Linked DNA regions of Homo sapiens: region 1 is linked to region 2. The links come from fine-mapping of genetic effects on gene expression. A gene starts in region 2. The other region holds a variant in brackets. All regions are shown on one strand. Distances are between the middles of the regions.

What was found.
Region 1: its variant is fine-mapped to the expression of CCDC175 in tibial artery (GTEx, PIP 0.96).

Annotation. Positions count from the first base shown.
Region 1 is chr14:59,676,211-59,684,555 of GRCh38, forward strand. The region is part of intron 3 of RTN1 (reticulon 1); the gene reads right to left. Among named protein-coding and RNA genes, the nearest start is that of MIR5586, 33 kb to the left of the region's middle. The variant A/G (reference allele first, on the strand shown) is at 3,964.
Region 2 is chr14:59,572,474-59,580,818 of GRCh38, forward strand. CCDC175 (coiled-coil domain containing 175) reads right to left here and starts at 4,339. Exons shown (of 20, transcript NM_001164399.2): 1 at 4,146-4,339; 2 at 2,470-2,555; 3 at 229-340. The coding sequence starts at 4,302.

The DNA of each region.
Region 1 (8,345 bases), 100 kb after region 2:
AACTGTCTTCAACTTGAAGTGGAAAGCAATTTTAGCTAGTTTTTGCACAGAAGCTGTAAAAATTAATGAGTCAGTGTCTTATGTGTATAGCTGATCCTCAGAAAGCTCTAAGTATATAGCAAGTGCTACTGTTCTTTTCTGTGATATAAATAAATAACCTTGAAAATATCATCATCATCATTTGTAACTGCAGTGGTGGCAATTAGAGAACAGGTTCAATTAAGTATCAGTAGTTATATGGCCTTAAAGGTAAGTCAAAATTTGAAGCAAAGAAGCATTAACGAAATTATGTGAGAAACCCAAGCTTAGATGATACCTACCTAATCGATGATTGGAAAAGACTTTTGAGGGCAAAGGGCACATGCAAAAACATAGTATGTATTGATCAAAGAGGAGGCAGGACAACATGAAAGGTGGAAGTAAAAAGAAGCAAAGAGTAGCTCTGCTAACCTAACTATCTTCTTTAAAATAATTCAGTATACTCACTAAAAATAAAAATTTCTGGATCCATCCCCAATCAATCAAATCAGAATTGCTGGGGATGAAGCCCTAGCATATGCACTTTAACGGGTTTCTAAGGTCATTCTTAAACACTGAAAAAATAGTAAACCACTACTTCTTAAATCCAGGAAACATCAGAAATAACCGCAGCATTGAAAAGTGATGAGGCTTAGATATATGCTTGTTCTCTAAGAGGTATGATGGTAGCCCAAAGAGGTTTTCTGGGAAGGCATTATAAGTTCAGATGATGGGAACAGATTGATCATTGTCAGTGTACCCTACTTAGGAAAGGAGAGCTCACCCCAAATCTCCATGTGCGCCCTGCTCCATTCCTATCGGGTGTACCAGCCCACACTTTCTGAGTGAGGGGAGCTGGCTCCCACCTCAGGGTTGTCTGCAAGTCTTGCTCTTCCTCCTTCTGATGCTTTCTGACCCTCTTCTTCCAGGACCCCAGCCTTTGAATCCTTCTATACCCATAGGTACCAATATTTGACTTATGTTGATGCAATACATTCACAGTGGTCACATCTCTGAATTTAAAAAGCAACGTGAGTTTTATTTTTCTCAGATTTTCAGCCTTGAACAGGCAGAGGCTCTCTCCATTTGATATTCATTGTAGGATATTCAAGACATCTTTTTCCAGGGATGCTGGTACCCCACTGCTGTGGTCAATGAGGAAATCATGGTTATAATCTGGTAATAAAAATAGTAAGTAGGGACACAAGAAAGTAGGGACACGAGAAAGATTCACTTTTTTAAGGAGCCATGAGGAGAGATTTATGATTTGAAATGTATCTCAAGGAGTCAAATACTGCAGTAAGTGGACAGAGCATGATGGCAAAGGAAACAGAACAAACAAAAAGATTAATATTAATATTGGAGACTTTTCATCACTAAACAAACACAAATTCTGGTCCTGAGGCGGGAGATGCAAAGAACAGGCGTAATTATTTTTTCAAAGATGATATGGACCTGCCTTCTACAGGTAAATGGAAAACCATTGTACGTTGGCTTTCTCTTGAGTAGATTCAAAGCACTTGGCACTTACCCATCCTTCTAGCTTCCAAAGGTGACAATAACTCAGGAATCATGACCTCATTTAAAATAAAGTGAGAAAGTGACTAACTACCCCAGTCATGAAAGGCAGTAATGTGGATTTTAGCTTTGCAAGGAAATTTCCTAGCAAACCACATGGCCCATTTCTGTCTCTTAATGTTAGAACAGTCCCCTAAAATAGTCTTTCTTACAAAAATAACATTCTTTTCTCACTCCCAGGATCTTGGCATCTAAATGCTATTCTAGGCATTTTAGAAAAATAAATAGTCAAAGCTATTTACAACAATGACTACCACGCTGTGGCCTGAGATGGTGAGTTTCACTTGAATTGCCAAGAAGGGAACAAGGGCGTCATATAAACCCTGGAAAACAAGCCCAGGGACAAGTCCTGTTCTGGGGTCTGGAGGATTTGGAAGGCTGCCAAAGCTTAGGCAGTGGTGGTAGGGGTGCGTGGGGAATGTGAAAAGGGGTCTTTTCTCCAAAGTTTTATTTAAGGGTTGAATGCTAATGCGAAAATGGCCTAGCTCAATCATTTTAGCTTCTCTGGCTTGGCCTTCCTAACAGCAAGAAAGAAGCCATCAATGAGCTACAAAACTTCATTTTTCCTACAGGCTGGAAGTGGTCTCTTTTTAATATATGTTCTGGATTCCACTGTCTGAGAGAAGAAAATTGATTTAAACATTTAGGTATCTACAGACAACTCTTACTGACTCAGGGGCCAGCGCACTCAGATTGCAGATTGCAGCATCCCTGTTTCTCTACCTTGTGCCTCATCCTTTGTGAATTCTGAAAGCTGGTTGCTTTTTCCCACATACTGAGGTCCAGCGTGGGCCACAGCACATGTTGGGACCTCAAGAGCTGAAGGTTCCTTGCTGGGCTCCCAGGCACAGAGGTACAGGCCTCCCTTCTCACTACTGCCCCTTCCTCAACCTCCACTGTCCCCATTGTCCTTAGGCTCACTGGTGTGGAAGAGACTTTAACAGACTGACATGCTGATCTTCAGGTTTCTCAAAGCGTGACCACAGACCACCTGCTTCAGAAGCACTGGGGGAGTTGGTTAAAAATGCAGCTTCCTGGGCCTCACCCCAGGCTTACTTAGTCAGAATGGGAAGCTGAGAATGTACATTTTTAACAGGCTATCCAGGTAATTCTTATGCACATATAAGTTTAAGGACCATAGATACAGGTGCAGGGTCTTAGTATCTAACTCTGTTGGGTTCTTGAGTTCAACTGTGATTTCAAAAAGCAAGGGATAGCATCTGAATCCTCTTGGCTCCTGGCAGAGTGACAGATTGGATTGTGAGGGATGACAGTGTCTGGAAAAGACTGGGAACAGGTAGGAATCTACTAGAAAAAGGCCAAGATAATCCCTAACTTGACATTTTGTATTGAGTATTATCATGTGTAATTGTTAGGGTGGCTTGGGTATGAATTAGAGAAGTATTCTCAATTTCCCTCTTAAGCATCAGAAGTTGCACAGGTGCTCTGAAATGAAACAATAGTACAGCCCTCTCTGCTAAATTGAGTTATCTATTAAACAAACAGAGCCACCAATGATAACCCATACACCCTTTGACTTAGGTTTCATCTTTACCATTGTATCAATGTTTGTAAAATAAGGCTAGAGACTGGAGCTCTAACTTTTCTCAATCCAGACTCTACCTCTCTCCAGCTAAGACCATGAGGTCTTTATTTCTTCTCTATGCCTTAATTTCCCCAACTGTGGGATGAATCTGCTTATAGTACTAGTCATAGGTACCTTTTAATGGTTATTAAAAAGGGTTGAACAGTAAAACAGCAGAGTACAAAACAGGTGTTATATTAGTAATCACTCTTAATAATTTCATTGTTAATCATTGTCACTGCAAAAATTAACAGTGACCTGACCTATGAGAAGAAGCTGAACTGTTTAGCTCAAATGAAGTCTGGGGATGACTTCTGGATTTAAGTTATTCACACTCAACCTATCACTTATTGCCACAGACACTTCAAAGTTCACAGTTCTCTGAAATATCATAATTTTCCAGAGCTTCCATACAGACTTGCATATAATTTTCCAGAGCTTCCATACAGAACAATTTGAACCTTGCAAATTGTTCTCATTTTATCTTAGGTCTAACAGGTTGGGGGTTGGGGTTTGTTTTTCTTTTTTAAAAAAATAGAACTTCTTAAAAACCAGGTCAGACTTATCAACAGAATCTAAATAAGGCTTGGTGTGTTGTGCAACCTCTACAACATAGCAACAATGAAATTTCACTGCAACTACTGCCCTCATACCCAATAGCATTTACAATACCTCTGACAAAGTGTGTCTATTTCCATGGTACCTGTTGCCATGGGAGCTGAGCAGTGCTCCTCCTAGAACAATCATGTTAGTAACATAGCTCTTAGCTATTGCCTTCTAAG[A/G]GCTTTGCTCTGGGGAAAAAATGGGATACTTTGTTTTTGAAAGAAGTCATAAACCTCCTCCAAAATAGACAATTGTTGCTTAATAGTACTAAAAAGGAAAGAGCAATCCCTCTTTCCCTCCATACCAGTTAGAGAAGCATTTCTTTCCTTCTGGAGAAGTATTTCCAAGTGAAACCATGCAAAATATAGGGAAGTGTGTTTTGAATTCCATTTTAAAGTTATTTTGCATAAAAGTTAAATAAAAAAGGAGATAGTTGTCATTGTTTACAATAAGTCTATCTTTACTAATTTGAGCTAATCAGTGAATTCACTGAATAAAATACAAGGTTAGTGCCAATTACCAATTTCCCAATGAACCCAAATACAAGGCTTTATAGCATGCTGTATTATTTAGTGTGTCCAGGCATTGCCACATAAAGCTGATGGAAGTATACATTTGTATCATCTTTCTAAAACACAATTTGGCAATAGGAGCCTTAAAATGTTCATATGTTTTAGTATGGTAATTCTATTTCCAGAAATCTATCTCAAGAAAATAATTTGAAATGAACACAAAGCCTTATAAACAAAGATACTCAATGGAGTGGTATTTAAAGTTTTTTAAAGCTAAAATCTAAATGTTGAACAATAGAGAATGTGTAACTAAGTAACTGAAAAGTGATAGGCATCTTTATGCTGTCATGAAAAACCATATTTATGAAGAGTTTTTAATAACTTGGGAAAATGTTTATCATATCAAGTTAAAAAAAGAAGTATATGAATTTATACAGCCAACATAACAAGTATACAAAAATATGTACAGACATAATAATAGAATATATGTTGAAATTTTGACAGTGGTGGTTGAATTATGGATTACAGTTATTTTGTCTTTTATAAGTTTCTATATTAATAGTATGTGTGTGTCTATCTCTATTTCCCATTTTCTCTTTTTTCTCTGCTTCTCTTTTCATCTAAGTGCTCATAAAACTACAAATCTATTTTATTATTTCCATATTTATTAAATACATCTTAGATTTCCACATGTACAAATCCAACAAAAACTTACCAAGCATTATTTGCTATGAACAATTCTTAATTTAGACATATGAACATATATTTCCTCTAACAAAAACAAGTCAGTTACTTTGCTTTTAATTTACTTGGTTCTTGATTCATATGTTTTATTCCATGAGTAACTGTCTCTCAATAGAAAATCATTCTGAATCTTAAAAAATGGTAATTTGAAAATGCCAAAATGTTCTCCATACTATTTTTTCAACCCTTTTTTCTAGCTCCAATAATGATTATCAATGATGAGTGTCATATCAATTCCATCCCCAAACCACACACTGCAGTAGGCACTGGGAAATAATGAATCTGGGTCACTAATACTCTGTATTCTCCACTGGGCTCTCTCACTCATGCTCATAGTTACCACCAGACATGGGTACCACCAGCTCTGAATCTCCAGCCTGGACCTAGCTCTTGAGTTCCAGGTTCAGGTCACTAACTGCTTACTAAATAAATCTTCCTGAATGTCTCCTAGGCATCTATGAACTCATTTTCCCTGTATCACCTTCTCAGATCGTGTTCCACTAAGCAGCCTTCTTTTTCATCCAGCTAATCACATCAGAACACAAGGATCATCCCAGATTCCTGTTTCTGTCTCACTGTTCCCTTCCCCTACCCTCAAACCTTGATTTCTACTTTCCAAATCTCTCCCAAATTCATCCTCTCAGCTGCTACAGCTTTAGTTTATAGTTTAGACCCTCGTCACTGCTCACTAGATTTTTTTAGTGATCTTCTAACTATCCTTTTGGTTACCAATCTGTCCTTCTCATGGAGAAATCTTTCTAAACATAAATCTGATCATGGTGCTACCCTTTAAGAAGCTAGAAGATCCAGCATGTGCTTTTTAATGTGGCTCCTTCCCATCTCCCCATCTTCATCTCCCATGGCTTTGCCACTGACATACTTTCCAGAAAAATGGAATTATCCTAATTCCCTGAAATCACATGCTATTTCACCCTTTGAGGACTTTACACACATTCTTTTCTTCAACTGAAATTCTCTCACCTGCTCCATATTTCAAGACTTAGCTCAAGGTTCAACTCCATTTGTCTTCCTTTCCTTATGGCATTACTATTTCTGGTACATCTTCTCATGATTATTTTATTTATTTGAACAAGATTTATTACACATCCAATGTTATACCATGCATTGTGCTGGCTGCTGGGTAGATAGACTACTTCTGCCCCCACAGAAGGATTCCACTTGCCTTTCCTGCTGTTGAAGTTTATACCTATGTCTCCTTTGAATTGCTAGAGGGCAGGAACTGACTCATGGTCATCTTTGTATCTCCCAGCTTCTGGCGAAAGTAGATGCCTAATAAATGTGTATTGAACAAATGGAAACAAACACAAGTGTTTCTGTTTACATTAACACAACAATAAAACTTAACAAGTATAAAAGTTACTCATAATTGCCAATGAGTAATGTTTCACACTTCATAAAACAGAAACAATTGTCTCTAGGGAACAAAATCAAATGTATACTTACAGAGCACATGGTTAAGCATTGCTAAAAAAGGCTTTGAGAATATGATTTGATAATTTATGAGTTTCCTCATAATTCTATGATTAAAGTGACTAATCATAGGGAATATAGTTAGTCCCACTGAACTCCACTCCAGAAACTGTGGTTCCTAATACGCATGCACTAATTTGCCTAATAGAAATCTTACTTATGAGGTTATTCAGCATTTAAGAGTGCAGGCAAAAGAAAGGAGAAGCAATTTGATTTGTACCTAGGGGAGTGACATTTTGGTTCTCGGTTAATATTTAAAAGTCAACTGACACAAGATATTTGGTGACATTCACTATGGTTGATGTATGAATCTGCCAATCCCATTTCTCCTTACTAACGCATTATTTTGGTCCTATACTGAAGCTTATTCCAGACTCAACCTCATGTTCTCTTTCTATTGGAAATCACTAGTTGGCATCAACTCTTTGCTTTTATATAGCTGAAAAATACGTTAATTAATCCATTTAAAGTTGTATGAAGGTAGTATTAATTTTGTGTATTAACACAATGACTTATTTTCTGATCTAAATATTTCCAAATCATCCTGGGATAGGGGAAGTGAAATATGCATTTCTAATATAACTGACATGGAAAATACATTTTGCAGATTTGAAATGACGTGGATTCAATACACATCTTTATCTGTCAATTCAGTAGGCATTTAATACTAGGGTTTCTTTTGGTTTTCATTTAACTTTCTTTTAGAAAATTGAAAAAAAAAAAGCTTAGTTAGAATTTGTCTCTGGCCAGTCTCAAAACACTTTGTAATATACTTGCCTAAGATCCATTCACTGTAGAATTAAATGTCACAAATGATGGCTTTTTACCACAACTTCTGAAAACTTTCTTTGTTTTTCAAACCAGGTGAGCCAAGTTACAAATCTGTTTATTCATTTCTATTTCCTGAAAGGTTAGATCATAGAGTATTTAGTATTCTATCTCCATAGTAGGTCCCTTGAAGGGCTTCTTTCTCTTGCTTTAGAATTACTCTCTTATTTCCTTAGTATCTTTGGTTTCAGGTAGTTGACCTTATTAGTCAGATAAGAGTTTTGGGCTTTTGTCTGCCATGAAAGAAAACTGGTGATCCATCTAATTTGCTTTTCTTTGTTTTTTAGCTCTTGCCAACGCCAGCTCTCTTCACTATGAAGAGTACTCTGGTGTTTTGAGAGTCTTTGTCTGATTCTTATTACCAAGGATTGCCCTTTGAGTTAGTGCCTTAAAAGTAGTAATTTTAGTGATTGACTTTCACAGGCTCAGAAGGCTTCTGCATTTAAAGTTTTCTAATGACCAAGCAAAGTACATACAGTGCACTTTCTGTTTGCAATGTTATAATCACAAAAAGAGAAAGACTTTAATTTTAATTAGAATAAGGCTTTTTAAAAGTTAAATTCTCCCTCCCTTCACCTCACTCTTCTAACTTTTTTTATTTTTTTACTTCTGGTGGTTACTATGATTTAATTAAATGATCTGTTTTGTAAGTATTTCTAGATTTAGTAATTTGAGGTAGTTCCTGTTATATAAAATTTAAAAACTTCAGTGCATTTTCACTATCATTTATATCCTTTCCAGTTACTGATTTTTCACATTACTTTTACTGCCAAGATTTATACAATTTACATATTTTTCAAAAGTTATAATTAGGACTTCTCTACTTTATCCACAGGATGGTTCTAAAATTTATGGCAATAAACAGAATTATTGTATTATCATGACTTAGATATTATTTTCTATAAAAATAAGAAGCATGTTTAGACTCAAAGAAAGGAAACTGTGATCTCGTATCACTAAATCCCCTACCACTCAACAGAAAAAAG
Region 2 (8,345 bases):
TTTATCTATAGTCTATTTAGAAACCAAATTATATAAATTCAAGTGTTATATATACTATTTCCACTTAAAATATAAAAGAAAATTATTACGGACCTTACTGTGTTTGTGTCATGTATGCTTTCTAGCTCTATCTTACATGAGCAATAACTATGAAACTTATCTTGTTGAAAGTACTTCATTCTGTTATAAGATCAACTAAATTTCTAGAGTTGATAACCTCAAAAGTACCTTCCAATTCCCTCTTAATGCTATTGGGAAGAGTTTCCAATAGATAGTATAGTTTGTTGAGTTCCATGCTTTCAATCTCCAAAAGATCGATTGTGGCTTTTCTCATTTCTTCCTGAAAATTTAAATTACATTTTTAAAAAGTTAAGACACTAAAATAGTAAGATTGATTTCCTAAACAATGCCCTACAAATGTTTTCAGGGGTCAAAATATAATTTCACTAAATATCTTCTGCCATTATTTTTATTTGGAACAGAAACTGGGAAAAGTATCTACAATCACTATTTAAGGTGTCTGTTAGTTTATCTCTTAATTTCTATTGATTTTATTCTACTGAGAAATTATCTTTTCTTTATGAGTATCTGTTTCTTATATGCAGTTTCAATCCATTTAAAAGGAAAGACTAACAAAAATAGTAATATTGAGAAAGAAAGCTACTTATTAAAATATGGAAATTGCCTATAAAAATATGCTTAGGTATAAAAAAAATGGTTTTCTCATACACACCTACAAACCCAAACAAGTAGGTAAAGCTGTTATTATTACTTTTAGCTGAGGCTACTTTAAGAAAGGAAACACTGCTAAGAAATCAGTTGGTGGGAAAAAATAGATAAATCATCTTTTAAATAAACTGTCATAATAGCTATAGCTATTTTATGACCTGAGAAACTGCCATTATATTTTATGAATTATAAAAAGCAGACTATATAATTACATATATAGCATCATCACTTTTCTGTAAAAAATGAAATTCAATGCAGTTATCACCTATACCCTGAAAATAGAAAGTATATTCATCAGCATTAATAGTGATTATTTTAATGTGGTCCTTTTGCTTATCTATTTTTTCTTAATTTTTCAAAGTCAACATGTATTACTTTTAAAAATAAAAGGATTGATCTGGTTTTTTGTTTTTTTGTTTTTTTTTTTTTTGAGATGGAATCTCACTCTGTTGACCAGTCTGGAGTGCAGTGGGTCAATCTCAGCTCACTGTAACCTCTGCCTCCTGGTTTCAAGCAATTCTCCTACAAGCCTCCCAAGTAGCTAGGATTACAGGCTCCCGCCACCTTGCCAGGCTAATTTTTGTATTTTTAGTAGAGATGGAGTTTCACCATGTCTCGGCCAGGCTAGTCTCAGACTCCTGACCTCAAGTGATCCACCCATCCTGGCCTCCCGGAGTGCTGGGATTACAGGCGTGAGCCACCATACCCAGCCTGATCTCTGTTGTTTAAGAGATTTCACGGCTCAGATATTAAATGAATACAGACTAGATACTTTAACCACAATAAATATTTTGGCCTCTTAAAATCCTAGCGAAAGACATAACTGAAAGAAAGAACCAAGCAGGGAAAAATGTTTTCACAGCACCACAGAGCTGCACAACACACATGATCCCTCAGTGTTTACGTGTACCTACTCAAGTAGGATTGTAAAGTATGATTATGTAGTATAGATATATATATGTGTATAATTATATAAAATATAAAGTAGTAAGAGTTTTATCAGCAGTCTGTGGATTCAAACTCATTTACAGCCATATTTCAACATTTTTAGCAATTTGATATGTAGTAAATTCTTATCCAATATTTTTAAATAAAATGGAGAGCCTTCACTACTCTGACTGTGCCAAGGAAGCATTGTCAATGTGATCCTTGGCCGAACAGAGATGTCTGTGACACCTCAGAAGGAAATTCTTTAAATATTTCTTCAACATGTCTTTGATAGGGGCCAGTTAAGTGTAATTGAAAGAGTTTCTCTTTGTTTTCACTAACAGTACCGTCTACTTCAGTGGAACATATGTCAAATAATCTTTGACCAGTTATGCAAGGAATTGCTTACAGAGAACTGAGTTAATTAGCACCATGCTTGCAATTTATTCCAGAGATTGTGTGTTTGTTTGTTTTAAGCAATGCTTATATATTGGTGTCCCAAGCATTTGCCCATGTGGTCCACCTCTTAACTGAACCGTATTATCACCCACATTGCTTTCTCTAAATGAGCTTGCCCTCATCCACAGCCATAAGCCCATAATTTAGTTTTCTTCATGGAAAATCAAGTAACAATCCACAGTTGATCAATAATTGTGCAAATCCTTACAAAATTGAGAGAAAAATATTTTTAAGTTCAGGGTAACTATATTCCCTAGTCATCTACTTAATACTTTGAACAGAATTGGTGCGAAATGAAAGTTTGAAGAAATATGTGGAAGATTGAAGAAATGGTTCTTATAGATAATACAATACCAATTTCTTAACAGCTACAGCAATGTCCTTAAGAAAGATCTTAGCTTCTTCATTACATTTAAAATAGTCACTTTGCAGTGATTGTTCTGAAAAAAAAATTAGAAAATAAAGATCTCTTATTTATCTATCCAAATCCTACTTAACCTTTTATGATCTAGCTCAAATGCTTACTCGGCTGGAAGTTACATCTTCAGTCTCTGAATTTTTATTGTACATTACACTAATCTCTTTTGTACTTATTTCCTATTCCATAATGTTATAATTTAGGTATATATTTTATGCTCCTTGAGGACAAATGTGCTGGAGATTTACATATTAATATTTTATAACTCAGGGCAAGAGGGTGTAATGATTTTTTTTTCCTATGAAATATGTTCTGAGTGTCTAGACATTAACAGAAAAATGTATTTGTACATAAGTACTAGGGTTGCATTGGCATGCCGATCTAGAGATCAAGTATGAAAAGAGTTCAAGGTTCTAGGTCTGTCATTGACAGTGACCTCAGATACATGTGAATAATTTAGGTCTTAATAACTTTAGGTCTCCTCAGTGGGTAACATTCCTTTTTTTTTTTTTTTTTTTTTTGAGACGGAGTCTCGCTCTGTCGCGCAGGCTGGAGTGCAGTGGCACCATCTCGGCTCACCACAACCTCTGCCTTCTGAGTTCAACGGATTCTCCTGCCTCAGCCTCCCGAGTAGCTGGGATTACAGACGTGCGTCACCACGCCCGGCTAATTTTTGTATTTTTAGTAGAGACGGGGTTTCACCATGTTGGCCAGGCTGGTCTCAAACTCCTGACCTCAGGTATCCACCCGCCTCGGCCTCCCAAAGTGCTGGGATTACAGACATGAGCCACCGCGCCCGGCCAACATTCTTCATGATAACATTTACCCAAGCATATTTGCTAAGAATTGTGAAATTAACCTAGCGCATTTAAGAAGGAAAATAAAAACTATCCCAAATTAATAGTAACATTGTAACATAAATCAATACGATTATCTTGAAGAAATGGGATGATTCTAGTGAAGCACTGAAATGTTTTGTTGTTTGGCCTAAACGGTTTTTGCACCGAACAAGAAACACCCTTTCTTGGATTGTCTTACCTTAAGCTTAAGTGACTTGATTACAGGTTCAGCTTTCTAACTGAAAAATACTTTAACCTGGCCCTATCCAAGGTCATTTTCTATTAGAATCTCCTAAACAACCCTTTACATCTAATTTTTCTTGCTCAACACAACAGAAGCCTCTTAAACACTCCCTTTCCTATTTGCTTGTTAAATTCTCCAGTTTGCCACGGCAAAATGTCGGAGGAAGTTAACTTGTAAAGGAACGGCAAGAAGAGAACTGAAATCGAAGGCATAATCTAAATGCAGGTGTGTAATCAGGTCGCAGGCATAGGGCAGTGGCTTGGGAGTCCCGGATTTGTCACCTCAGTAATTTAACTACTACTGAGGGTTGAGCGAAGTCACCTCAGCTGCGCTAGGGCAGGAGATCTGGGCACTTGGTCCCACCCGCCACCTCTCTCTCCCCAGCCTCCAAGGAGCGGGGAGAAGGCTCTGCCCTGCCCAGTGATGCCCTGGTTCCGGGAGGAGAGTCCCCGCTCAGGGTTCCCGCTGAGTGCCTCCTAAGCGCCACCTCTGAGGAGACGTCCCTTCCAGCGCCCGAGGGGCGTCTTACCCACAACAAACAGCTGCTCCAGCGCCTCGACCGCGACCGAGGAGCCCAGGGTGGAGGGTAAGGTGCATAACTCCAGGGAGGGGCCAGTGGAGACGGCAGCCGCCTGCACCAGCTTCTCGCCAGCGCCCAGCCCTGGGGTCCAGGGGCTCAGGGCCATTTTGCCGCTCTACTTGAGCGCCTCCTAAGCCAGAGCCAAGGATTGCCGGTTGCCACGGGCAACGAGGACACCGAGGTCGTGGGGCGCCCCCTCGTGGCCCGCACCTCTAGTAGGTACCCTCCTGGTTCTCTAATTTTATCCACGATAATTAAGCAGTCTGGGAAGAATGACTCTCTCTTTAGCTAATTTTTCCCCTTTCAATTTCCATTGCGTTAGTTCAGGCCTGTATCTTTTTTGTGGGCCACTGGAATCATAATAATGATCACTTTTGAGCGCATCTTTGTGCCGGATACTGCAGGAGAACCTTTATATACAGTAGCTCACTTAATCTTCACAAGGACTTTGTGAGCAGGCTCTTTTAGTACCTCCACTTTTACAGACACGTAAACTGAGGCGCGGGCGACTAAATGAACGGCTCAAGACCACAAGAGGATAATATTGGATTTAAAGTGACGTCTGGGCCGGGCGAGGTGGCTCACGCCTGTAGTCCCAGCACTTTGGGAGGCCAAGGCGGGAGGATCACCTGTGGTCATGAATTCAAAACCAGCCTAATCAACATGGTGAAACCCCATCTCTACTAAAAATACAAAAATTAGCCGGGCGTGGTGGCGCGTGCCTGTAGTCCCAGCTACTCAGGAGGCTGAGGCAGGACAATCGCTTGAACCCGGGAGGAAAAGGTTATAGTGAACCGAGATCTCGCCATTGCACTCCAGCCTGGGCGACAAGAGCTAAACTCCATCTCAAAATAATAAAATAAAATAATAAAGTGAAGTCTGTATGACTCTTTCTACTATGCTACAAAACCTTCTTTTGTACTAATTTAGAACTTTCCTTGTATCTAGTACATCACTGAGCACATTTTGCCTTGAATCATAGTGATTTTTCTCTGTCTTCCCATCGAACTGTGAGCTCTGTGATGACGGGGACAGGAGGATATTATTCATTTTTCTCTGCATCTCCAAAATTCAGCTTAGCATGAGGCTTAGGTTGAGTCTGTCAGTTCCTTTTCCTCTGGTGGGTTAGAGAGAAGCAAAGGTGATTCAACCCTCCTCTTCTTTTCTCTACAGATGGCAAAATTGAAATTAGAATGATAGTAACAATGACAATAGCTATCAATTGTTAAATGCTTATTTTGTTCCAGGCACTGTTTTAAATACTTTGCAGTACCCCATTTAACCCTCACAAATAATCTTTTGAGCTAGGTATTATTGCCTGCTTTGCAAGTGAGGGCACTGAGCTACATCCTAAACCACTGTGCAACACTGCCTTGGAGGGGACACAGCATACCAGTAGCAGAACTAGTTCTAGAATCCAGGCCTCCTTCATCCAGGGAGTGCCATATTTTGGTGTTGGAAACCATCCTGGACAACATCCTCCTTTTTTGCTGGATTTGGTCTATTGGTATTCAAATCTGTTCCTGCCCTTCTGGGCCCTCCTCTGTGTGGCAGGAGTAAGAAGACTGGATATGAAATTTCCTGGATGTCCTTGCCACCTGTTTTCTTGGTAAGTTCCACTAATGGGAAACACTTGAGGGAGATTAGAAGGCCGAGAAATCATGCATTTCTGCCTCCAGAAGTGGTAGTTTCAGGCTACAGTTGACTGTAGGTCCCAGCAGTTTTGGTGGCTCTAGAAGTGGCAGGAGTAGGAGCCAAGTGACTCCAGCAGTCTCCAGCTGCTCAGCACTATATGTGAGCTTGTGCGTACAGTACAGGTGTTATGGCAGCTCTGATGTCTGGGGTCTTCTTTATCTTCTTACCCTTTGGCTTCTATACCCCTTGTAACAAATTCCTTGTGATATACTTCTCTCTTCTGGAAATATCTAGACTGGACTACTTCAAGGCAACCCTTAAGCTGTCACCAGAAGACTCTTCTTACATATCGCATCATTTGGATCACATTGCTCTCCATTATCTATGAATAAAGGCTAATCTTAAGGGGGCATTTTGTGTCCTCCCCACTTACTGGATTTGTTACAGATTTTCTTACATTTCTCTATTTCCCTTCATGTCTCTAATACTTTCTTTTTCCCTGAACTTTGTGAGAAAGTTACATGTACATACACATACATATGTATAAAGTGGGAAAAGCAAGTTGAAAAAGAAACGTACAGTATTCAATTAATATTTAATTTTTATAAATTAAATATTTTGTGAGAGATGATCAGCTTCTAACTTGTCTCATGGTTCCTTTTATATGGGATGCCCTGTACAAAATTCAACCACAATTTTTCAAAGGAAACTTTATAAATTCTGAAATAGAAATCTAGGCAAACAACATGAATCATCACTTAATAAAAGAAAAAAAATTCCGAGAAACATACGGAAAGAACATTTACCCTCATTAGCATTCAAAGAAAAATAATACTCTCATTTTCTCATAATATTAAGATTAAAAAGAATAATACTTCAAAGTATTGACACTGGGAATATGCATACTATCTGAAGGACAATTTGGAAATTTGTGTAAGGAGCCTTGACATACAGTAATTCTTCTAAGAATTGTTCTTAAAGAAATAATCACAGGTTTGTCCATGGGCATAGGTATGAACTTGTTTATTGCAGTCCTGTTTTAAATACTGAAAAATAGCCCAAATGATCTACAGTAGGACACTGTTGTTAAGTAATTTATGGGACATCCATGCAGTGGAACAATCTAGAAGGCAATCCGCCATGTGGTTAAGAGCTTGGGTTCTGGTGGATTTAAATGCGTTCCACTACTGATTGGATGGAGTATCTCCTGAGACAGCCTCCCAGCTCATGCTGCCAGTGTCTCAGCTCTAAAGGGGTGGTGACGGTGATAGGAGTTCTCAGTTCATAGGATTGTTCAAAGGATTAAATTAAGTGAGCACATGGTAGATACTTAAAAAACACTAATGATAAAGTAATAATAGGGTACCTATTAAGAATAATGGGTAGAAATTTACATGTACATACACATACATATGTATAAAGTGGGAAAAGCAAGTTGAAAAAGAAATGTACAGTATTCAATTAATATTTAATTTTTACAAGTCCATATATCTATAGAGATGTATATAGGTATATCTCTATAAACATATGCATAGAAAATGGTCTGAGAAGAATTGTTCACTAAAATGTTACCTGTAGTTATTCCTGGTTAGTGAAATTATAGATGTAATAGGTAAAATAATGCCTCCTCAAAATGTCCACATCCTAATCCCTGAGACTTGTGAATATATTAGGTTACCTGGTAAGGGGTAATTAAGGTTGTAGAGGAAACTAAGATTGTTAATCAGTAAACTCCGAGATGAGGAAAGTAGCCTAGATTGTCCAGGTGGGCCCAATGTAATCACAAGAGTTGTTTTTTTTGTTGTTGTTTTTTGTTTTTTTTTTGAGACGGAGTCTCACTCTTGTCACCCAGGCTGGAGTGCAGTGGCGCCATCTTGGCTCCCTGCAACCTCCGCCTCCTGGGTTCAAGTGATTCTCCTGCCTCAGCCTCCTGAGTAGCTAGGATTACAGGCACCCGCCACCACGCCCAGCTAATTTTTGTATTTTTAGTAGAGATGGGGTTTCCCTGTGTTTCCCAGGCTGGTCTTGAACTCCTGACCTTAGGTGATCCGTCTGCCTTGGCCTCCCAAAGTGCTGGGATTACAGGCATGAACCACTGCGCCTGGCCACAAGAGTTCTTATAACTGAAAGGTGGAGGCAGGAGAGTCAATATCAAAGTCAGAGAAAGATTTGAAGATGCTAAGCCGCTAGTTTTGAAGATGGAGGAAGGGGACCATGAACCAAGGAATGCAGGTGGTCTCTGGAAACTAGAAAAGGCAAGGAAACAGATTCTCCCTTAGACCCTCCAGAGAGAATTCAGCCTTGCTGACATCTTGATTTTCACTAAGAAAGACTCATTTTGAACTTCTGACCTCCAAAATGGTAAAACAATACATTTAAGTATTGTTTTACTTTTAAATTTGCTTTACTTAAAACAATAAATTTGTATTGTTTTAAGCCACTAAGTTTGTGGTAATTTGTAACAGCAGCCATAGGAAACTTTAGAAATAATGGACACATAAAAAAAGATTTCTC